7 linked regions of the Homo sapiens genome follow. The protein of the gene in region 1 interacts with the protein of each later gene in a pairwise test. Each region holds a gene or a part of one and is shown in the gene's direction. Other genes may lie near its edges.

What was found.
Region 2: the proteins of PPL (region 1) and ZSCAN16 interact in binary tests that used the Homo sapiens proteins (3 or more experiments, as listed by UniProt).
Region 3: the proteins of PPL (region 1) and CEP57L1 interact in binary tests that used the Homo sapiens proteins (3 or more experiments, as listed by UniProt).
Region 4: the proteins of PPL (region 1) and RAB3IP interact in binary tests that used the Homo sapiens proteins (3 or more experiments, as listed by UniProt).
Region 5: the proteins of PPL (region 1) and KRT25 interact in binary tests that used the Homo sapiens proteins (3 or more experiments, as listed by UniProt).
Region 6: the proteins of PPL (region 1) and ZNF165 interact in binary tests that used the Homo sapiens proteins (3 or more experiments, as listed by UniProt).
Region 7: the proteins of PPL (region 1) and ZBTB26 interact in binary tests that used the Homo sapiens proteins (3 or more experiments, as listed by UniProt).

The regions. Positions count from the first base shown.
Region 1 is NC_000016.10:4,930,649-4,934,148, reverse strand, and holds part of PPL (periplakin), read left to right. Parts: intron 1-3,500. UniProt on the Homo sapiens protein: Component of the cornified envelope of keratinocytes. May link the cornified envelope to desmosomes and intermediate filaments. May act as a localization signal in PKB/AKT-mediated signaling.
Region 2 is NC_000006.12:28,127,609-28,130,582, forward strand, and holds the end of ZSCAN16 (zinc finger and SCAN domain-containing protein 16), read left to right. Parts: intron 1-1,763; coding exon of another isoform or gene 1,764-1,821; coding exon 1,822-2,342; 3' UTR 2,343-2,474; downstream 2,475-2,974. UniProt on the Homo sapiens protein: May be involved in transcriptional regulation.
Region 3 is NC_000006.12:109,140,507-109,144,006, forward strand, and holds part of CEP57L1 (centrosomal protein CEP57L1), read left to right. Parts: exon of another isoform or gene 1-169; intron 170-3,500. UniProt on the Homo sapiens protein: Centrosomal protein which may be required for microtubule attachment to centrosomes.
Region 4 is NC_000012.12:69,755,860-69,759,359, forward strand, and holds part of RAB3IP (rab-3A-interacting protein isoform alpha 1), read left to right. Parts: intron 1-545; coding exon 546-804; intron 805-3,500. UniProt on the Homo sapiens protein: Guanine nucleotide exchange factor (GEF) which may activate RAB8A and RAB8B. Promotes the exchange of GDP to GTP, converting inactive GDP-bound Rab proteins into their active GTP-bound form.
Region 5 is NC_000017.11:40,752,532-40,756,698, reverse strand, and holds the start of KRT25 (keratin, type I cytoskeletal 25), read left to right. Parts: upstream 1-1,367; 5' UTR 1,368-1,427; coding exon 1,428-1,856; intron 1,857-2,230; coding exon 2,231-2,313; intron 2,314-2,682; coding exon 2,683-2,839; intron 2,840-4,167. UniProt on the Homo sapiens protein: Essential for the proper assembly of type I and type II keratin protein complexes and formation of keratin intermediate filaments in the inner root sheath (irs). Plays a role in the cytoskeleton organization.
Region 6 is NC_000006.12:28,086,816-28,090,063, forward strand, and holds the end of ZNF165 (zinc finger protein 165), read left to right. Parts: intron 1-1,747; coding exon 1,748-2,655; 3' UTR 2,656-2,748; downstream 2,749-3,248. UniProt on the Homo sapiens protein: May be involved in transcriptional regulation.
Region 7 is NC_000009.12:122,915,066-122,918,289, reverse strand, and holds the end of ZBTB26 (zinc finger and BTB domain-containing protein 26), read left to right. Parts: 3' UTR 1-2,724; downstream 2,725-3,224. UniProt on the Homo sapiens protein: May be involved in transcriptional regulation.

The DNA.
Region 1 (3,500 bases):
GATGGTGCAGGTGACCGAGGACAGCCTCCAGCCTAGTAGAGAGGCCCTGGAGGAGACCCGCTGCCACCCTCCTGGCTGTGCGACCTCAGAGGAGCTGCTTGGCTTCTCTGAGCCTGTTTTCTCACCTGTGGGATGGGAATAAGCACGGTGCCTGCCTGGCGATGTTGGCTCAGGATTAAATGAAATAATGCAGGGGAAAGGTTGTGAATGATAAGCGGCCGCAGGTAATAGCATCTGTGACGATTACAGTTATTAAGCAAATGCGGGCAAGCTAGCTGTGGTGTACCCAGGGTTAAACTTGATATCATGGTGGACAGGCTGTGCACTGCACAATTCCATAGGCACTGTTGCTGGGTTTTAGCACGTGGTCGTGGAGGAGACGTGGACAACCTCCCTGCACTTGAGTCGCTGGCAGTCACATCACAGAGATAAGATGGAGTTAAGCTTCAGTACATGTATGGTTACATGAGCGTCGGACTGATGGGGCCAGGCAGGAGCAATGGAGCATAGAGCCGGACAGATGAGGTCTCCACCCTGGCCACTCACATACTTTGTGACAGGCCTCAAGTGAGAGTTGTCACAGTCAGAGCACAGATGCTGGGAGGTGAGGGAGGACTTCACAGAGGAGGCATCTGACCTGTCACGGGGTGGGATGGAGTGGCCAAGACCCAGCTCTGCAGTCAGGCTCAATTCTGCCTCTGCTTGAAAAGAAACATAGCATCCCTGAGCCCCAGCGCTTCTGAATTTGTTGAATGGGATTAATCTTGCCCCTCCACCCAGACCTGGGTCCCAGTAAACACCCAGCAGCCTGGCCTTGCCTAGACGGGTCTTGCAACACTGGGGCCGCCCTGATGGAGCGCTCCTGCATGGGAGGCAGGACCCCAGGCTTTGAGGGGAGAGCTGGCAAAAGGGAAGCATGCTCTACTGGGAGGCACCTGGGGTACCCTGAGCCTCTTAGTGGTTAAGAACACAGTGTTTTATTAGCTGGGCATGGGGGTGGGTGCCTGTAGTCCCAGCTACTCAGGAGGCTGAAGCAGGAGAATCCCTTGAACCTGGGAGGCAGAGGTTGCAGTGAGCTGAGATTGTGCTACTGCACTCCAGCCTGGGTAAAAGAGTGAGACTCTGTCTCAAAAAGAAAAAAAAAAAAGCAAGAACACAGTGTTTGATGCTAGCTGGGCATGAGTTCAGGCCGCAGCTCTGGGTCTCTTAAGCTGTTTGATCTTGGGCAAGTCACTTAATGTCTCCGAGCCTCAGTTTCTTCATCTATGAGGTGGGGTGACAACAGCAACCCCCAGTTGGTGAGGCTGCTGGGTAGATCAAATGAGGGGATGCACATGATGGGTCCAGCCCATGACCTGGTTCAGAGCGAGTGCCCGGCAAATCATAGCAGCCAATACTAGGAAGCACACACTGCTATTAAGAGTCATGACGGGCTGGGCGCGGTAGCTCACGCCTGTAATCCCAGCACTCTGAGAGGGTAAGGCGGACGGATCACTTGAGGTCAGGAGTTCAAGACCAGCCTGGCCAACATGGTGAAATCCCATCTCTACAAAAATAAATATTAAAAATTAGCTGGGTGTGGTGGCGGAAACCTGTAATCCCAGCCAGATACTGGGGAGGCTGAGGCAGGAGAATCACTTGAACCTGGGAGGCAGAGATTGCAGTGAGCCGAGATCACACCACTGCACTCCAGCCTGGGAGACAGAGCGAGACTCCGTCTCAAAAAAAAAAAAAAAAGATTCATGACTGAGCCAAGCCCAGAGCTGACCAGGGAGCTGACTCAAGCAGACACGCACATGCACCCATCGATCAGTGTTGGTAGGAACGCCTGATCGATATGGGAGGGGACCCATGTGGGTAACAGCTTAGAGAGAGCCGCCCCGCCATTTCTCAGGCACATACTGTGAGCCCAGCAAGGCCATGGATGTTACATCTCATTCTGACAGCGGGCCTGCCATGCAGGTGGAAGTGTCCTGTTTCACAGAGGGCTCACATTCACCTTGAGCTCACAGCTCACAAATGGCTGATGCTGGAAGTCCAGGGGGGCCTGGGGAAGCAAATGAGGCCTCCCCACTCGTACCTGGATCTGGCAGCAACTGTGCCTGGGGACTGCTCCAGGCCAAATGGTAGAGTCATTGGTGTTTGTGCTCACTGCCTCTACCCCCAGCAACCCCCTCTACCTCTCTTCTCTCTAGCTTTGCCCCTCCATCCCTTGCCCAGTTCTCTTGGAAGAAGGAATGAGACTGGATAAATTCGATTCAGGACAGAGCTGAGCTTACCTGGAGGAACAGCTGCTAATGGTAGCATTTCAGGCACTGTCGGGCGGATCATGTTGGGAAAGGGTATTTTGGGGGAGAGACTCAGCTCCGTCCACACCCTTTAAGCAATACCCTAAGGGTGTGGTTGGGGGAGGCCCTGGAAGTAGGGGACCTGGGGGAGAAGCTGCTTTAGAGAGCTTCCAAAGCTCCTCGTCTGGGGAAGAGAACCCTGGCTTCCCAGCGTGCAGCTGCTCTCTGCTCCCGGCAGGTCTGTGCCGGTGTTACCGGCACCACCTTGCATCCTCCCAGCCTGCCTGCCCCGGCCTGTCTTGGGAGCGAATGGGGAAACGGCCTCTGGTCTTTGTTCTCCCGGCTTCTGATGGGTTGCTGTGCTGCAGCCTCTGGAGCCCGGGAGGCCACCTGGTGCCCCTTTCTGCCTCCGGGTGGGACAAAGCTCTCTTCAGGTCCCAGCCCTGCCCTTCCCTACCCCAACCTATTTTTTTTAAGTGTTCTTTCTTTATTCTTTAGAGACAGGCTGTCACTGTATCACCCAGATTGGAGTGCAGTGGTGCGATCATAGCTCACTGTAGCCTTGAACTGCTGGGCTCAAGCAATCCTCATGCCTCAGCCTCCCAAGAAGCTGGGACTACAGGTGTGCACACCACCGTGCCCCGCTAATTTTTAATATTTGTAGAGATGGGGTCTCACTATATTGCCCACTCTGGTCCTGAACTCCTGGGCTCAAGTGAGCCTCTTGCCTTAGCCTCCCAAAGCACTGAGATTACAGCCATGAGCCACTGCACGCAGGCCCTTTCCCTTTAAATGGATCCCCACTTCTCCCTGCCTGCAGAGCCAGCAGCCCAGCAGGCCTCCAGTCCCTCTTCACTGTTCCTTCTTCCACTCCAGCGCTCCAGTCCCTTCTCCCCATGGCAGCCAGGGAGCTCCTTACGACATAAATCTGACCATACCTCCAGCTGCTTAACCCCTGCCCCAGACCTCTCTTTGCTCTTAGGCCCTGGGAGCTGGTGCCCTGCACATCAACATGTGCCTGTCACCGTCTTGTTTCCACGCTGTGCCCGGCCACAAGGCCTTTCCCTCTGCCATTCCTGTTGCCCAGAATGCCCCTCCCACCCCTTTTCACTGCTTCTCTTCCACTTCCAGGTTTACCTTCTGTTCCTCAGGGAAGCCTTCCCCAACCTCTCTGCTGGGGTAGATCCACCTATTCTATGGACTCCCCTTCTC
Region 2 (2,974 bases), on another chromosome or scaffold:
ATAACACATTCCCATGATGAAAGAAGTAGGGAAGAGAGACAATGATCAGTCAATACAGCAAAGTTTCTTGTTTTTATCTGCATGTCAAATTAATTGGGTTTTATCCCCCATCCCAGCTCCCTAATTACAAACTAGGGTGTCTAGTGTATCCCCAGGCTACATTAAAAAGCTGGTGAATTTTAAATTCCAGTTTATCCAAACCCTACCTTTTTCAGTGCTCACCACCCTTTCTCTAGAGGCTCCCATGTCTAATAATGCCTCTCCGGGTAGTTCCTTATACTCTAGCCTATTTTGTATTCTTACTACTTAAGTTTTACCAATATCCCATCCTGTAGGATCCCTACCAGATGATTTGTCTAATCTGAAAAATTATTTTGAGCTAAGATGTTCCTAGCTGCTATCTGGAAAGGATGACATTTAATTATATGTAATGTAAAGAAGCCTTTCAGTGCTTTAACTCTAGGAGTGGAGTGCTGGTTACTGTTTGGCTTTAGAAGTGACGTTAAGAACCTCCTATCTGTTCTTTTTTATTTTTATTTTATTTTATTTTTTTTAGAGGAGAGGTCTCACTATGTTTCCCAGGCTTGTCTCAAACTCCTGGGCTCAAGTGATCTTTCCACCTTAGCTTCCCAAAGTGCTAGGATTATAAGCATGAGCCACTGTGCCTGGCTCAACCTGTCTTTTGATTCATTCATCTTTCACTGAGTATTTACTAAATAGCAGCTATATGCCAGACACTATACTAAATGTAAGGAATCCAAAGGTTAGACACTTACATTACTTCTCTTCAAGAAGCAGGAGAGTGAGCACTTACAATAGTGTAATAATTACCATACTAGAGATACACCGTGAACTACAAAGAGGATAGCTATCCCTGAGGTGCACCTGCAAAAATATCACAGAGTAGGCTTGCTTGAGCTGAGAAGGTCAGGTGGGAGCTGAAAGGGGGTGACATTTTAGGCAAAGAAACGGTGAAAAAAAATAGCATCAGAGAATAACATTCTAAGAATAGCAACTGCTCTGAGTTTGATTCTGATAAGGAGTCGTCTGTAGGAGGGAAAATCAGCAATGTGTGTTTTAATAAACGATCCAGCTGATTCTGATGCACAATAAGGTTAGAAACCACCGAGCTAGGATTTAGACAGGAGGTGATGACAGCAAGGACATCAGTTTCAGGAAAAAATATTTTACCCAGCATATACACTGACTATCCATTGTCATTTCCTATTCCTTTTCATTCCTCTATTTACTCTGACCTGCATGTTGTCATGCTTCCTGCTTCCAGCTAATTATTATCCTTCAAACACACTCCCCTCCTTGGATGGTTCCTATTCACTATATTCCTCTCAGACCCCAAATCCTATTATCCTCTCCATTCACTTTTACTTGATTTTACTTGCCACCTATGTTTCAGGCCCCTGCATGTTTCTCCCAAACTTTTACCTCCCTCCCCATCTCTGTTCTCCAGTCTCTCTAATTATCCTTGGCATATCTATAGTCCCCTCATTTATCCGTCTTCCCTTACATAGTATTGCTAACTTATCTCTTGAGCTCTATTTTTGCCTTTTCTTCTCTTAATCTACTCTCAAACAACTTGTTCTGCTGATATCTTCCTTAATTCTTAATTTCTTCCTTACATTGTGACTCTGTGCTATGATGATACCAAAAATAAGATGGTACCAAATATTTGATATGTGTGTTGTATGTGACTTCTCATTATTTTATAACACATTTATAACATTTACATGTTCTTTCTTCCATAGGCTGTTTGCTTCTCAAACATAGAATAGGACCCGTTTGTGTACTGTTTGTTTGTTACAGGTGATAAAACTAGGACTAAGAATGAAGAGTTGTTCCAGAAGGAAGATATGCCCAAAGACAAGGAATTCCTTGGGGAGATAAATGACAGACTGAACAAAGATACTCCTCAGCATCCTAAGTCCAAAGATATTATTGAAAATGAGGGCAGATCAGAATGGCAACAGAGGGAAAGAAGACGATATAAATGTGATGAATGTGGGAAAAGTTTCAGTCATAGCTCAGACCTTAGTAAACACAGGAGAACTCACACGGGAGAGAAGCCCTATAAATGTGATGAGTGTGGAAAAGCCTTCATTCAGCGCTCACATCTCATTGGACATCATAGAGTACACACGGGAGTAAAACCCTATAAATGTAAAGAATGTGGGAAAGACTTCAGTGGGCGCACAGGTCTTATTCAGCATCAGAGAATCCACACAGGTGAAAAACCCTATGAATGTGATGAGTGTGGAAGGCCTTTCCGAGTAAGTTCAGCTCTTATTAGACATCAAAGAATTCATACCGCAAATAAACTCTACTAATATAGCAGTAATATCAAAAGTTCTTTGGACACTCAGGCCTAACTAGTTATCAAAGAATCTATTTTAGAAACCTTGAGTTTCCTCAATGTGGTCAAAGCTTCAGTCATCATTAAACTTCTCTGGACCAAAGAATCTACCTGAGTAAAATATCCTTTTATTTCAAATTAGTTCAGTTTTGAGGGGGAATCAAGAATTCTTTCAGAAAGCCTTGTCCACTGACAACACTGCTCACCTGCAGCCCAAGATCAATGGTTCCTGGATGAAAGACAGTGAATTAATTCTGTCTCTGCTCCAGGTCCTTTTTAGTTGACCATTCAGTGTCTGACTTTAGGCAAGACAAGACATACACATTTTTCTCTGCCTTCATTTCCCCTTCTGTAAAGTACAGATGATAATAGAGGCTTACCAGGTATGTTTCGACAAGTTAAAACTGATGAAAACTACTTTTGAGATTAAGATATAAAACAATGCTAATTATTTGTTTTCCACCATTACTCATATAATAGCCTCAACATCCCTTTTTTATCTTAAAATGGGGAGTATGATTATTTTTTGGAAATTTTTGTTTGCCAATGATAAAGAATAAGCCATCAGAAGACAGGAGGCCAGCCTGGTCAACACAGCGAGACACC
Region 3 (3,500 bases), on another chromosome or scaffold:
CTCCTGCCTCAGCCACCCGAGTAGCTGGGTCTACAGGTGTGCGCCACCATGCCTGGCTAATTTTTGTATTTTTAAGAGAGACGGGGTTTCACCATGCTGGCCAGGCTGGTCTCGAACTCCTGACCTCGTGATCCGCCTGCCTCAGCCCCTCAAAGTGCTAGGATTAGAGGTGAGCCACCGCGCCCGGCCTTATATGTTGTATTAATTTTAACAGAGCTTTTGTATCTTTTCCTTTATTTTTCTGTTACTTTTAAACATAGAATATCTTACCTATTCTAAGGTTATTTAATATTCACTGATTTCTTAAAATAATTTTTAGAGTTTTTTATTTATTTATTTATTTAGATGGATTCTCGCTCTGTTGCCCAGGCTGGAGTGCAGCGGTGCGATCTCGGCTCACTGCAAGCTCCGCCTCCCGGGTTGACGCCATTCTCCTGCCTCAGCCTCCTGAGTAGCTGGGACTACGGGCGCCCACCACCACACCCGGCTAATTTTTTGTGTTTTTAGTAGAGATGAGGTTTCACCATGTTGGCCAAGATGGTCTCGATCTCCTGACCTCGTAATCCGCCCGCCTCGGCCTCCCAAAGTGCTGGGATTACAGACATGAGCCACCGCGCCCAGCTGCGTTTTCTTTATTTGACTCTGTAGCTATCTGAAATTTGTATTGATGTATGGGGCAAGATGAAGCCTTAAATGGATTTTTTCCCCATTTTTTTCTTTTGTTTTTGAGACACAGTCTCACATTGTTGCCTGTGCTAGTGTGTAGTGGCGCAATCTCGGCTCACTGCAGCCTCCACCTCCCAGGTTCAAGTGATTCTTCTGCCTCAGCCTCCCAAGTAGCTAGGATTACAGGCATCCACCACCACGCCTGGCTAATTTTTTGTATTTTTAGTAGTGACAGGGTTTCACTGTTGGCCAGGTTGGTCTCGAACTCCTGACCTCATGATCCGCCCACCTCTCCCTCCCAAAGTGTTTCCCCAATTTTTCTAACATCATTTATTGGATGATCAACAAATGAATAGCTGAATCCCATTGAAGTATTTATGTTACATTCGTGTATTTACTAGTTTCTATTGACCAGTTTTTATTGTCACATCTTAACATTTTGGTGATTTTATATTATAAATAATACATTATATAATTATTATGGGATATCTATAAGTAAGTTCCACCACCACAAATTATCTTATTCAGTTATAATAAGATAATAATAAGATATAATAAGTTATAGTACTTCCTAAAGTACTATACATTAAAAAATAAAAGAGTTAGTCCAGCCTTACTGTGTTTGCTCTTAAGGTAAGTTAGCATAGATGCATACATAAAGAAAAAAACAGATCAAAGAAACTGAGCTGTTGATCCTTCTTCAGTTTCTCTAAGGAAAAATCCAAACTTGGAAGAAGTAGCAGTTACAGCAAACAGAGATTCCTTTATTTCAAAAGTCTTCTATAGTATCTCTGACTGCCCCCTAATGTCGTCTCCCTAGCAGTCCTATGGAATAAGTGTTTTCCTCTATAAAAAGTAAAAATGCTTTGCAGTAAAGTGTTTGTGTCTAGAGCATTCTTTTTAGGGGGATAGTTTTTTTATGCAATGGGTTCTTAGTTGCAGCCAATTGGGGTATCTTAATTTTATAAACCATAAAAACAGTGAGTAATTTCCCTGGTTGTTCACAAGCTGTCAAGAATGGTTTCAGGAAAACCAACCCAAATGCCCATCAATGATAGACTAGATAAAGAAAATGTGGTACATATATTCCATGGAATACTATGCAGCCATAAAAAGGAATGAGATCATGTCCTTGGCAGAGACATGGATGGAGCTGGAAGCCATCATCCTTGGCAACCTAACACAGGAACAGAAAACCAAACACTGCATGTTCTCACTCATAAGTGGGAGTTGAACATTGAGAACACCTGGACACAGAGAGGGGAACAACATACACCAGGGCCTGTGGGTGGTAAGGGGAGGGAACTTAGAGGACGAGTCAATAGGTGCAGCAAACTAATATGGCACATGTATACCTATGTAACAAACCTGCACGTTCTGCACATGTATTCCATTTTTTGTTTGTTTGTTGTTAGAATAAATAAAGAAAAAATAAATAAAAATTTTAAGAAAAAAAAAAAAGGTACAACTTGAGTTTCTCAGGCTTGATACAAATGAGGTTCACATTTTATAGCCTTTTGCCCTTACTTGAAGACACCTATAAAATGTTCCATAAGAATTCCTGAGGTCTTTTCAGTTACCAACAGCTAGCTAAGTCTGGTATCAGAAATACCGGAATCCTAGAGATTGTGATTTAGGTACTTCTCTGTATTTTCAGAAATTTTTCCCTAGAAATATTTCTCATATGTGCCCATGAATGTATCCCTTCCATCTGTGCTCTCTCTGTTTCTCTGTTGCTCTCTCGCTTTCTCACTCTTGTTCACTGTCTCTCTTGCTCTCTCTCTCTCTCTCTCTCTCTCTCTCTCTCTCTCTCTCTCTCTCTCTCTCTCTCTCACTGAATACTACTAACTGATGCACCAGAAAGGGGCCAAAACTGTGTTAGCAATCTGACTCCCCCTCCATTGTCATGTAACATCTTACACAAAGCAGGGAAGCTAATGCCTTGATATTTTATAGAGATATTGGTGAAACATTTCTCAGTTTTTATTTAAACTCTCTCTCTTTTTAGAACCCACATATGAGTCCATGGCACTAGGTCAGAGATAAATTAGAATGACCACCATCATAGTCTACTCAGAATCACTCCTCCTTTCCTTAGTCATTTAAGGCTTTTATTTTGGATCAAGCCTTTTGTAGTTACTTCACCTTCTTTCAGAGTGAGTTTTTCTCCCAGGATGCTTCAGTGCTTTATATAAATAAGCTTCCAGTAGGCTTATGCACTTGTTTACAACACAGGACCAGATTATAAAGGTTAAGCTGAGATCCCATTACAATGAGAATCTCTGAGCTCTGTGTCACAACATAACTTGTCCTCTCATCTCTTTACTGTTTTCTTTCTTTTTCTTCATCTTGTTTTTATCCTATCAGTGGATTATTCTGCTTGTGCCCACTTTAATATGTGTCTACACATTTAATTTAAATAAACTGTAGTCTACTTTTTAACTTACTGGCAATCTTCTAACTAGTCATTATTTCATATACATTAAAAACCTCAAATTTGGACCAGTTTTTTAACTGGTACAAAATCCGGTTTGTGAAATAATATTATACTTAGGTCAGAGGAAGCAGAGACCTCCCAAGGACTTCAGTGTGTAGTGACAAATAGCAAAATTTCATTCTTTATGTCATTGGAGAAACCCACCCGGAGCTGAAAACTAAGTCAGATTTCTTGAGTAGCTCCAGTATTCTTGGGATAGCTTTAACAACTTACCTCTCTCTGAAGATGTACAACCATCTTCAGGATTTACGTACTTTAGGGCCTTACCTCCACTTTATAGTGAGCCAGCTGTGACTAATGTTGATCTCTTGTTTTTTGAGGGAACAACAACTTAGAT
Region 4 (3,500 bases), on another chromosome or scaffold:
TTGCAAGCCATGCAGTCTCTGTTGCAACTATTCAACTCTGCCTTTAGAGTTTGAAAGCAGCCATAGACAGTATGTAAATGAATGAGAGTGGTTGTGTTCCAATAAAACTTCATATATGGATGCAGAATTTTGAATTTCATTTAATTTTCATGTGTCACAAAATATTCTTTTAAAGATTTCTTTTCAACTATTTGAAATTGTAAAAACTATACTTGGCTCATTGATACCTTATAAAAACGGGTGGAAGGCTTGGTTTAGCCTGTAGGCTATAGTTTGTTAACCCCTGCTCTTGAGTAGCACTGTCCTGTAGAACTTTCTGTGTTGATGAAAATGTTCTATTTCTGTGCTATCTAATATGAATGATAGGTATTAACCACATGTAGCTATTGAGCACTTGAAATGTGGCTGATATGACTGAGGACATACTATTTATTTAAATATAGAAGCTACCAAATTGGGTAGTACAGTTCTAGAGCTGTGTGTTTAAGCCAGTTCTATTGGAGCATATGCTGATATTTTCTGAAAAATGTCTCTCTCCTTTACAGCTTTCATGTTACAGACCCAGCCCCTTGCTCTACCTCTGGAGTCACAGCTGGATTAACTAAATTAACTACAAGAAAGGACAACTATAATGCAGAGAGAGAGTTTTTACAGGGTGCTACTATAACAGAGGCTTGCGATGGCAGTGATGATATTTTTGGGTTGAGTACTGATAGTCTGTCTCGTTTACGAAGCCCATCTGTTTTGGAAGTTAGAGAAAAGGGCTATGAACGATTAAAAGAAGAACTCGCAAAAGCTCAGAGGGTAAGAAAGAAGATATTTTATTCTTCCATATATTATATTAGAAATTAGTATTTCTCCATGGGGTGGGGCAACCTGCAGAAATGAAATCATGATGGTTGTACATTTATCCGTCACATATGCCCAGCCTCAGCTCCTGTTAGGCAGCATTTAGGAATCCGTGAAACTGGTTGGGTAGTAAAGAAGTTCCTCTAAGACTACTAACTGGAAAAATGTGGCTCTGTTAACTCTTCTGTGCCCCACTGCATTGCCTGCTCCCTGTCTCGTATTATCTGTAATGCAGATTGAGTGGGCTATATTCCACATGCAGGGTTTTTCCTTCTTACTACATGGCTGACTAAATGGTTATTTACTTGAAGTCACTCAGTCTAAGTCATTTTGTTTTGAGTTTAAGCTGAGTTTGAATATTTTCTGTATCTTACCTTGGAGAATTTTCTTGGTAAATTGTTGTGTTTCCCATTTGGTCATTTTAAAAGTTTCTGCTATTTATTTCCAAACTTGTGGCCATATCTTATTCTTTTTCTGAGTCTGCAGTTAAATTTCAGAGGAAAATTTATAGAATGAAATGCATACATCAGAAAACAGGAAAAGTCTCAAATGGACAATCTAAGCTCCCACTTTAAGAATCTGTAAAAAGAAGAGCAAAATAAAACCAGAGCAAGTAGAAGGAAGGAAATAATAAAGAGCAAAAATCAATGAAATTGATAACAGAAAAAATAGAGAAAATGAGTGAGACAAAATGTTGGTTCTTTAAGAAGATTAATAAAATTGCAAACCTCTAGCAAGACTGACAAAAAGAAGACAGATTTATCAGTAGCAGGAGTGAAATGCAGGATGTCACTGGAGACTCATATCAAAAGTATAATGGAATGATATGAAAAACTGCATATATAAACCTGACAACCTAGGTGAAATACCAATTCACATGTAGAAAATTGAGAAGGTAGGGCAAACATTTATAGGTGTAATATCCAACCTACCATGACATTTCACAAATGTATTCCCACTCTTTCCCTAGCATACTTGTCTCTCATGAGCGTAGTATATTCATTTTTTTAATCCCCAGTTCCTTCCCAAAGGAAAAGGATGTGGTGAGATGTGGTTGCATTTTGTTTCTGTCATCTGGCTCAGACTTTGTTGTCTTAATAGATAGTATTTTATTAAAATCACACATTATATAGAGGTAAAATTTTGAGTATATGTATCCATCTTTGAGAACACATGGTTATTGATCAGAACAGATTGCTAATTTCTTAGCTCACTTGAGAATTTCCTTTGAAATCTCTAATATGCTGTATTTAGAGATACTGTTTGGATAATTGAAATGGTGATGTGTAAACACATATGTGGTGACTTTTATGAAGAGTATAAGTTAGTATTAATATTTACTTAGATCTCAAGGCTTGAAAAGGACTCTTGAATATAAAAATACTTCCTGAATTGTGACAACTTGTGAATCAAACTATGTCAACAGCCATTTTCTTTAGTCTTATCTTAAGAGAGGCCATTTTCTATACTTTTTACTTACTTGGTTAACTGTGTCTTCCTATTTAATACGAGTTTCTTATAGATAGTGTACAGTTAGGTCTTGTTCTTTTGATCCTTTGTAATTATCTCTGTCTTTTAATTGGTGTTTAGACCATTTACATTTAATGGATAATGGTATAGTTTGGTTTAAATTTACCATCTTACTGTTTGTTTTCTGTTTGTCTCATTTGTTCCTTTTTCCCTTTTGTATCCTTTCTTTTGAATTAATTCTGTATTTTTAAAACAATTTCATCTTCCTGTGGCTTTTATCTTTGTTGCTTTAGCGTTTATAGTAGACATATTTAACTTATCACTCTCTACCTTCCGGTGATATATTACTTTACATCTGGTGTACAAACCTTACAAAAGTATACTTTTATTTTTCCCCTCCTAGTTTTTGTGCAATAATTGTTGTATGTTTCACTTCTTTGTGTGTTTAAACCCCACAAAACACTATTGTTTTGCATTAAACAGTATTATCTTTTAAAGAGACTTAAATAATAACAAAGAATCTTTACATAGATAAACATCAGAAATGTTAGCTACATGGGCATCTGTGTGTTCATTCCTTTTTTTTTTTTTTTTTTTTTTTTTACAAGTTTTACTTTTATTTTTGAATGATAGTTTAACGGGGCATACAATTCTAGGTTGATGGTTGTTTTTTTTTTTCTCAACAAACACTTTCATAATTTTACGTCTTTGTCTTCCGGCATCTATCATTGTTGATGAGAAGCCAGCTGTCAATGTAGTTGTCATTCCTTTGTAGATAATTGGTTTTCTTCCTCCTTCTGGTCACTTCTAAGATTTTTTTTTTTTAATTGATCATTCTTGGGTGTTTCTCGCAGAGGGGGATTTGGCAGGGTCATAGGACAATAGTGGAGGGAAGGTCAGCAGATAAACAAGTGAACAAAGGTCTCTGGTTTTCCTAGGCAGAGGACCCTGCGGCCTTCCGCAGTGTTTGTGTCCCTGGGTACTTGAGATTAGGGAGTGGTGATGACTCTTAACGAGCGTGCTGCCTTCAAGCATCTGTTTAACAAAGCACATCTTGCACCGCCCTTAATCCATTTAACCCTGAGTGGACACAGCACATGTTTCAGAGAGCACAGGGTTGGGGGTAAGGTCATAGATCAACAGCATCCCAAGGCAGAAGAATTTTTCTTAGTACAGAACAA
Region 5 (4,167 bases), on another chromosome or scaffold:
AAATTTTGGTCAAAGAATACAAAATTTCATTTAGGTGGGAAGAATAAGTTCAGGATAACTATTGTACAATATGGTGACTATAGTTAATAACAATAAGAAAGTAGATTTTAAATGTTCTTACCACAAAATAGGTATGTGAGGTAATAGATATGTTAATTAGCTTGATTTGGTCATTACACAATATATTCATATATCAAAAAATCATGTCGTGCACCATAAATATATACAATTTTTATTTCTCATTTTTTTTTTTTTGAGGCAGAGTCTCATTCTGTCACTCTGGCTGGAGTGCAGTGACACAATCTTAGCTCACTGTAACCTCTGCCTCCCAGGTTCAATTGATTCTCTTGCCTCAGCCTCCCGAGTAGCTGGGATTACAGGCACCTCGCCATGATGCCTGGCTAATTTTTGTATTTTTAGTAGAGATGGGGTTTCACCATGTTGGTGAGGCTGGTCTCAAATGCCTGACCTCAAGTGATCCACCTGCCTCAGCCTCCCAAAGTGCTAGGATTACAGGCGTAAGCCACTGTGCCTGGCCTTATTTGTCAATTTTTTATATTTCCATAATAGGTAGAGTTTTCAGTAAATATATGTGAATTCCCACCGACTAAATACCTTACTGATGACTTTCATCTGAGCTAAACCACAATAAATTAAGACAGAAAAAATAGTTCCTACCAGGTTTGCTTCAGATTTTGCAGGGTCAGGAAATAAGTTAATGTCTTTCCAAACTCCCACAAAACATAACACCAATTAGGGGTGTGCTCCTAATTACCAAAATGGATAAGGTAAGACAACTCTCCTCAGTCATAAGTGTCAACAGAATATGATGCTCATGTCAGCCAGAATGGAAGTTAACTTCCCATGGGAAAGAGTGGCAAGAGGAATTTAAAAATAAAAACAAAAACCTATTGGTTGAAGAACCAGGTTGGGGAAATGATTACAGTTCTATTCTCTACTTATGTGGAAAAACTTGTGAAAATAAAAGCAGAAAAAGCCTCAGAAACATCACAATCTGCCTTGGCATAATAGCCCAAAACCATGATGCTAAATTTCTATCCTGTAATGAGCTGATGAGGTTTACTTCCAAGGATGGAAGTGAAGAATGACTCACTCAGCATTTAAAAACGTAATAATGAACCTGACATTGCTCCACCCAGACCCATTTCTCAGATAACCACCAACCTGAGGGCAACTGCCCTCCTACAGGAATGAGCCCAGCAAAGTGAGTTACTAATTAGAAAAAATCACCCAATTATGCCAACTTGCTGAGACTGGCAAGCCATGTTTTACTCTGTGTAGGCAGAATTTCATTCAGAACACACTTGGGACTTGCCTATAAAAAGGCAAACCAAACCTTTTAGACAAGAAGGCACTCCATTCTGGCTTTCACAAATACAGCTCTGCAACGCGTTTGCCCTGATACCATGTCTCTTCGACTTTCCAGTGCATCCAGGAGGTCCTGTCCTCGTCCCACCACTGGATCACTCAGACTCTATGGTGGGGGAACCAGCTTTGGTACTGGAAATTCTTGTGGCATTTCAGGGATTGGAAGTGGCTTCTCTAGTGCCTTCGGAGGCAGCTCATCGGGAGGAAACACAGGGGGAGGTAATCCCTGTGCTGGCTTCACTGTGAATGAGCGGGGGCTCCTTTCTGGCAATGAGAAGGTGACCATGCAGAACCTCAATGACCGCCTGGCATCCTACCTGGACAGTGTGCATGCTCTGGAGGAGGCCAACGCTGACCTGGAGCAGAAGATCAAGGGCTGGTATGAGAAATTTGGGCCTGGCTCTTGCCGTGGTCTTGATCATGACTATAGCAGATATTTCCCAATAATTGATGACCTTAAAAATCAGGTAAGAAATCATACTGCACAATCATTTTCATGTACCTTTATTTCTAAATTTTGTTTTCCTTTCTTTATTAAATTCTAAAAACATTTATCATTCCTACTTGTGATTTTTTTTTTTTTTTTTTTTTGAGAAGGAGTTTTGCTCTTGTTGCCCAGGCTGGAGTGCAACCGTGGGATCTTGGCTCACTGCAACCTCCACCTCCTGGGTTCAAGAGATTCTCCTGCCTCAGCCTCCCAAGTAGCTGGGATTACAGGTGCCTGCCACCATGCCCTCCTACTTGTGATTTCTTAAAGAGAATTCCAATTTAGCATTAGAAATAAGCATTAAGTAGATTCAGTTGGTTTACTTCATGATAAAAGTCAAATTCCCATTTCTAGATCATCGCATCCACCACCAGCAATGCTAATGCTGTTCTGCAGATCGATAATGCCAGGCTTACAGCTGATGATTTCAGACTCAAGTAAGTAGACTGCCAGAGTGAAATGAATTCATGGCAATTCATGCAACGCATTACATCAAATTTAGCAACTCTTATTCCAAAATTATAAAACACTTGAATTTCACATAAACAGGATGTTATTACTTTTTTATGCTTTGACTATTAAATACAAAGCATGAACTGCTATTAAAACTAGCGCCCAATACCCTAGTTCTTTTTCTGTCAAATACTGCAAAGTAGAAACAATAATTATTATACAACAAGCTTTGAAAATGCCTCTTGTGGCCAAATCTTCAAAATTCCAGAATGCTAGCATTTGTCATTGATCAGTGACTAGTGACTATGTCTCCAACCATGTGACAAATTAGGAAATCATTAACACTCTTTAAGGTATGAAAATGAGCTGGCTCTTCACCAGAGTGTAGAGGCTGATGTCAATGGGTTACGAAGAGTTTTGGATGAAATAACCCTGTGCAGAACAGATCTGGAGATTCAGTATGAAACCCTGAGTGAGGAGATGACTTACCTCAAAAAGAACCATAAAGAGGTAAGAGCTGGTCGTCTACATTTTGCTATCCCTCCGCAGACACTGTGCACCTGACAGGAGATAATGTACATAACCTCTCATATAAAAAGTTGGTGCTGAAGACACATTGTCAGACAGACATGAGGGCTGAGCTGTCTTTTTTTTTTTTTTTTTTTTTTTTTTTTTTTTTTTTTTTTGAGACGGAGTCTCGCTCTGCCGTCCAGGCTGAAGTGCAATGGTGCGATCTTGGCTCACTGCAAGCTCCGCCTCCTGGGTTCACGGCATTCTCCTGCCTCAGCCTCCCGAGTAGCTGGGACTACAGGCGCCCGGCTAATTTTATGTATTTTTAGTAGAGACGGGGTTTCACTGTGTAAGCCAGGATGGTCTCGATCTCCTGACCTCGTGATCCACCTGCCTCAGCCTCCCAAAGTGCTGGGATTACAGGCGTGAGCCACCGCACCCGGCCTGAGCTGTCTTTTTAAGTGTCAGATTCTTTGTACAGATTCACCCTTGCTCTCTCATCAAGTTTCCTATGGGGAAAAAAAAAAACGAATCATGTTTTCCAGACCAATCAGGGTTATAAGAGCAGTGTTTGGCTGTGTAATTATAACTAAGTTAAAATGATCCGCTTTGGACATTAAGTCTAATTAGATAAAATAAATATAAAATAAATATACTTTAAGGCCATCCTTAAACTAGAAAACTAGATCTCAATTTCTAAATGACAGTGGCAGATTTAAAACACTAAAACATTTACTTCATACACACATTAAGTATACATACTTAACGCTAGTACATATTCTTAATAGGTCTGGCTGTAAAAATAATGAGCATGAAGTTAAACTATTATACCAGAATTTACACTTAATCATAAACTTCCAAAGTGGTCACTGTTGGAAGCTAAGTTCCAAATTTTATATTGCAGCAATTACATCTTTAGGATTGCTTTCAGAGGCACTGTTTTCCAAAAGGGAAAAATCTTTATCCTTTGAAAATAAATTTGATATTTTAAATAGCCAAAAGACTTCTATGGTCAAGCCAAATGCTTAAAACAGAAGATCAAGCTAAGAATCCTACTTGATTAGTCATGAGGCTGTCTTATAAATATAACTACTTGAATAACATTGATTTGACTACGTGGATTCAAATATAGTTACAGCCCATGGTGTTTAATCAATTTTTGATGAATCAAAAGCAATTGATTTTTGTAATGCCTCATTTACAGGCAACCCTAGATATAGATATAGATATAGATATATAGATATAGATGATATACATATATCTTTTTTTATCTTTTTCTTTTTATGCTTGAACCAGGAAGTTTTCACTAAATCCTCAGAAGTAAAAGC
Region 6 (3,248 bases), on another chromosome or scaffold:
GAACATTTTTATGATATGACCAAATTAAAGGAAATAAAAGTGAATGAGTTGAGAAAATATCATGAAAAGAGAAAAGAAGGAAAAGAAAAAGAAATACATGGACAGAAGCAAAATATGTTCATAGAGAAGTACATATAATGATCAAGAGAAACAGATACATGATGATATACTGAGAAATAGTATATAATTCACAAGTAACATAGACCGTGATCCATATTTTTCCTGTTATGCTCTTGGTCTTATAAAGCTCTTTTACACTTTTATAGAAAGTTAGCTATAGTTCTAGAGACTACTTCCACAGAATACTCATCTCTGTTCTAAAACTCATCTATTTAAAAGATTCATAGATGCAGTATCACTTAAGGTGTGAATTGTCCCTATAGTAAACCCAAGAATAACTTACCGTTAATTTTTTGGTTTGTTTGTTTTGTTTTGTTTTGTTTTTCCTGACACAGAGTCTTGCTCTGTCACCTAGGCTGGAGTGCAGTGGCGTGATCTCAGCTCACTGCAACCTCCACCTCCTGGGTTCAAGCAATTATCCTGCCTCAGCCTCCCGAGTAGCTGAGATTACATGTGCCTGCCACCATGCCCGGCTAATTTTTGTATTTTTAGTAGAGACGGGGTTTCACCATGTTGGCCAGGCTGGTCTCAAACTCCTGACTTCGTGATCCGCCCGCCTTGGCCTCCCAGAGTGCTGGGATTACAGACATGAGCCACGGAGCCTGGCCACAATTAATTTTTAATAAATTTCTACATATTCTGCCTTCAGTTTTGTTCTGGAAACATCTCCATCTGTCGTATATAAAATTGTAAATTTCCCTCACCCCATGAACAGCACTCCCTAACCCTCTTTCCTGCCCTAGCGTATTGTAGACAAAGGACAGCTTATAATAAAGAAGGGCGGTTCAATTCCAGCACAGTATAGAGTGGGATTTGTGAAGACTGGATCATAAATGGATCTTGGAAACCAGGCTTGGGAATTTAGACTTGAACAAAAAAAGAGAGAGAGAGATTCAAGGTTTTTGAGTAGGGTATGAAAGGATGGCAGTGTTTAATGACCATTAGTCTAGTAAGGATCTTTAGGATAACTAGGAAGAAGAAAAGTGCAGAGTCAAAACAGCAAGGAGGCAGTTAAAGTCTAGATAGGAAATGGTAAGGTTCGAGACTATGGCGATGGTAGCAGAAATATAAAGGAAGGGATTTATACAAGGGACACTTAGTGGACAGTGATGACAGAATTTAGAAGACTGATTAACCATGGAATATGAGGAAGAAATAGACAATAGGTGGATGGAAGTTTTCTCACACATACTTCACAGTCACTTATAGCTTTACTTTTCTCTCTTGTGTTCTCATCTGCTTTCTTTGAGGTAGTGCCTCCATTTTCCCTCTAGAAATGTATCATAGACCCAAGGTTCCCAAGATCTGCTGCAGTCAACATTGTAGAGTTCCTTCTCCGTACTCTATCTCCCCCTATCTCTTGAGTTCTTGCTGATGACAATCCTCCCAATCTTTTCTAATATATATGCTTCACGTCTGATTCCTCTCTCTGCCAACCACTGCAGGCATTACTTGCTCTTACCAATGTTTCTTTCATTCCTATCATCCTCTTTCATTCTATCATTCCTCTCATGTGAAAGGTCATATATTAAAGTGGGCATATCAATATGTAACTATCTTGAGCATGCTATAAAATTTTCTTTTCGTGCAGCAAACAGGTAATATTTCCCTTTCTTTTTTATTTTAGATAATGAGAGTGAAAACAGTAGATCCATGCCAAAGCTGGAAATTTTTGAAAAAATTGAATCACAGAGAATTATATCTGGAAGAATCTCAGGATACATATCAGAAGCATCTGGTGAGTCTCAAGACATCTGTAAGTCTGCAGGCAGGGTAAAGAGACAATGGGAAAAAGAATCAGGGGAGTCTCAGAGACTCTCGTCTGCCCAGGATGAAGGTTTTGGTAAAATCCTCACCCACAAAAATACAGTCAGAGGTGAAATAATAAGCCACGATGGATGTGAGAGGAGATTAAATCTGAACTCAAATGAATTCACACACCAGAAATCTTGTAAACATGGTACCTGTGACCAGAGCTTCAAATGGAACTCAGATTTTATTAACCATCAAATAATTTATGCTGGAGAAAAAAATCACCAATATGGAAAATCTTTCAAGAGCCCAAAACTTGCTAAACATGCAGCAGTTTTCAGTGGAGATAAAACTCATCAGTGTAATGAATGTGGGAAAGCTTTCAGGCACAGCTCAAAACTTGCTAGGCATCAGAGAATCCACACTGGAGAGAGATGCTATGAATGTAATGAATGTGGGAAAAGCTTTGCAGAGAGCTCAGATCTTACTAGACATCGGCGAATTCACACTGGGGAAAGACCCTTTGGTTGCAAAGAATGTGGGAGAGCATTCAACCTGAACTCACATCTTATCAGGCATCAGAGAATTCACACCAGAGAGAAACCCTACGAGTGTAGTGAATGTGGGAAAACCTTCCGAGTGAGCTCACATCTTATTCGACACTTTAGAATTCACACTGGAGAAAAACCCTATGAATGCAGTGAGTGTGGAAGAGCCTTCAGTCAGAGCTCAAACCTTAGTCAACACCAGAGAATTCACATGAGGGAAAACCTATTAATGTAAGGAACTTAAATTTGTAAGTAAATGCTGAGGAAATGGCACAATATGAAAAATATTAAATAAAAAATAAATATTGGGCAAGATGGAAGACTGAAAGACCAGTTTCTGGTGTTCAATCTGTGTGTATGTGCTTTCTGTGAGACTGGGGATGTACCCCTTCTTTCATTGACTACTAAAGTCAAACCAAAAGAGCTACATTTAGGGGGGCTAATAGGGTAGTCTATGGCAGTGCAATGTAGAGAAATAGAGACTGTCTGGGGAAATAATCATGATTACAGTGTGGGAAGAAAAGGAAGATTTAGGTAAAGAGACTGATAATCAGTCCTAGTTTATTTTCCTAGTTAGTTTAGCACAAGAAGAGGTCAGCTAAACCCAGGAGTGAAATAGGTTGCACAGTGCACTGCAGAACAGTGTTTTCAGAGCATCCCTTTAAAAACTGAAGACCACAAAACTAAGATGCTCATGTTAAGTTAGAGAGTAATGTCAAATGAGGACATATGTAATGGTGGCATTCCTATATGAGGCCAAAATCTGTGTCCAGAGGTCATACCAGGAAGTAAAAAACCAGAAGAACACCCCAGGGAAGAGGCCAGAAT
Region 7 (3,224 bases), on another chromosome or scaffold:
AGGTACCAACAAGTTAATAACGTCACCTACTCTCCACTAATAGATGCTATGCTAAGAGAAGTGAATAATCTTTCTTTGGTAGAAAATAGGCTGAGATATAAGGTGATATTGCTATTGACCTGAAAATGTGATAGAACTTCTGGTTGCCTATTGATTATTCCTCCATGTCTGATAAATGAATCTGCTTCCTACCATTTGTACTTGTCTTGGAGCTGGCTATAAAGAAGTATGCTGGTTTGTTATGTACTCTTTTCAACAGTATCATAGCCCAACTTCATCTCATTGAATTGTTCACATATACCAGAGTACTCTCTCTTGAGGAACACCTGCAGGCAGATAGTTAGGGATGACCATGAGGAGCATAATCAACAGGGATAGAAGTACACTTATACAACAGCACTTACATGGGCGGTTTCTCTGGTAGCATGTCCCATAAGAGGCCATATGCTTATAATTAATGTGTAACTTGTTGATGCTTTTGAGATCAGGACTGCTCCAGGCACGCTAAAAATGTGCTAAAGTATAGTGGGCTCTCTAAAAAGAGGCTATTTGGGAGTCTCTGAATTTTGTTTCAGAGTTTAGCCATCAGAAAGGTGAGTTTGGCCATCAGAGTTTTGTCCTGTGCACCATAAAAGTCTCTGAATTTTCGTTTCCTCATGTACCTTAATTTCTAAAACGGATGATAAAAGTTAGGTTGGACACAGAAGGGGCAATCAAATTTCTGTATTCAGATACCTCTTAAAGGTACACTGTGCCACCTTGCTGCCTTTGATTGCAAATACAAAGTTAATTTTCAAAAAGGAAAAACAAAACAGCTCTTTTTCCTAAAACACATGTTGTACTTCAGACCTAAAATTCTAAGTCTTATTTGTTTCTCACCCATGAGTTAGATTTAGGTAATAGTATTAGTAGAGTCCTTAGAGAATCTTAAGAGGTCATTTACTCCACCTCTTTCATTTTAAATTGGGGTATCCAAAGCCTGAAGAGGTGGCCTGGCCAATATTGACCAAGGTATAACTAAATATGAGCTAGCATCTTCTTCCTTCTTCTCGCTATCCCTTGGCTTTAAAAGATTTAGTACATGAAGAATAATGCATTAGCAAAAAGCTCCTAGTTTGTGTTTCCCCTTTGTGTCTCCCTGTTGGCTTTCTGAGACAACCTGAATTTTGCCAACAAAATATCGCAGAGGGATTTATATTAATTATTTTTTAGTTAGATGAATATTATATTCTTCCCATCCAAGTGAGTGATTTGCTAGGTTTGTTTAGGGAGGGAAAAAGCAAGAATAATGTGAGAAGAATCTAAATGCGAAGTTGATTTTGTGTGGAAAACTGTTTATTAGTTTCCATCAGGATTTTCTGTTTTTATTTTTGAGCTATGAGAGTGCATGCAGATTTGAAAAATTAGGCTTGCATAGTCAGAGGGGATCTTCAATTGTTATATTTGATACGTTTACATGTATCATTGTTATCATATGTAAATTATCATCATGTGAGTCAGATGTGAAGTATGATTTTTGTCTTTTGTTCAAATATTTAAAATGATAATACAGTTGAGTGGTAAGACTAATAGGTACCTTATGCCTAACATCACTCATTATATGGTCTAATGATGCTTCCTAGCATTGTGATTTTTACATGATCCAGCCAAAGAGTACCAATTCTATGCAATAGTGAGACTCTACCCTGTCAACCAAACAGCATTTTTTGGTATTTTCTGTCAACATCATTTCTTCACAGGGAAATTTCAAGTTGGAGTGCTTCGTTTGCTCACATTCATGTCTTGTTTTTGTTACTGGTTTGAAGACTAAAAGGCACGGGTTCAAATAAGATTGGTCTCTTTGGTTGGAGACTATTTCTGGGTTCATTCAGTTGTTCAAGAAACATTAGTTAAGCACCTACTGTTGCTAGACACTATGCTAGATACTGAGGATAATGAAGGTAAGATTGATATAGTCCCTGCCCTCATGGAGCTTATAGTCTCATGTGGTCTTAGTGAAACAAAGTCTCAATTTGCTTTTATACTAGAAATAATAAAGAAAGCTGCCTTGCTGTATTCGATCAGTTAAAATCAGCAACTTTGTGCTTTTGTATCAGTAAAACATTTAGTTCTCACCTTTTGAAAATGCAAACCACTGAAGTGATTTACAGTCTCCTCCATTTTTGGCTGGAGAGGTGTTCTGTTTCTGTGAGACATTTTTCTAATTTTTGTGGAACTTCACTTTCCTCCTTCTTTGCTTATACGTGTTTGTTAGATTATATTGCAAAGAAGTCAAGTTACTGATATCCAGTATTTTACAGAGGAAGATGACTTTCAAAACTAGTCATATTTCTGTAGAGGAGGAAGATTTTTAAAACCTTTATCATTCAGCATTTGTATTTTATGGATCCCCAGGAGAACTAAAAAGGAGATGACTCTCTACCATAGTTTGGTTTAAAAAAAAATTACTCTGTCAGTTATTTATTTATTATTTAATACTAAACTCCAAACTGAAGTGGCTCTGAGGTAAATCAGATATGATTTTAATTTAAGTTTCTTTATTAGCAGATCTATAAATGGAAGGTGACCAATGTCACTGCTTCTAAAATACTGTCCTAAACAACCCAGAAGATTTTATTTCAGCTCATGAATAGCTGTTCTAAATCTGTTGTATGTTAGACATACTATGAACTACCTCTTCACTTATTATGGGGAAGTTTCCTTAATAAAAGTGTGACGATTAAAGCTCTGGTGTCATTGGTTATTTTCTCACTCTCCCCTCCTTCTATTCTTTTTTAATTGCTTTACTTTGAATACAGGAAGGTCTTCTTTATGTATAGTCTTAAAAATACATATTAAGCATGCTGAGCTTGCCTTCAGAAAAAAATACGAATTAATCAGAAAGTTGTTACTAGATTCATTTACTTCCACGAGAACCTGTTGCTGGAGGAGCAGAGCAACTGCCTTTAAGAATTGGTTCAGAGGCGGCCGGGCGCGGTGGCTCACGCCTGTAATCCCAGCACTTTGGGAGGCCGAGGCGGGTGGATCACAAGGTCAGGAGATCGAGACCATCCTGGCTAACACGGTGAAACCCCGTCTCTACTAAAAATACAAAAAATTAGCCGGGCCTGGTGGCAGGGCATTAGTCCCAGCTACTCGGGAGGCTGAGGCAGGAGAATGGCGTGAACCCGAGAGGCGGAGCTTGCAGTGAGCCAAGATCGCACCACTGCACTCCAGTCTGGGCG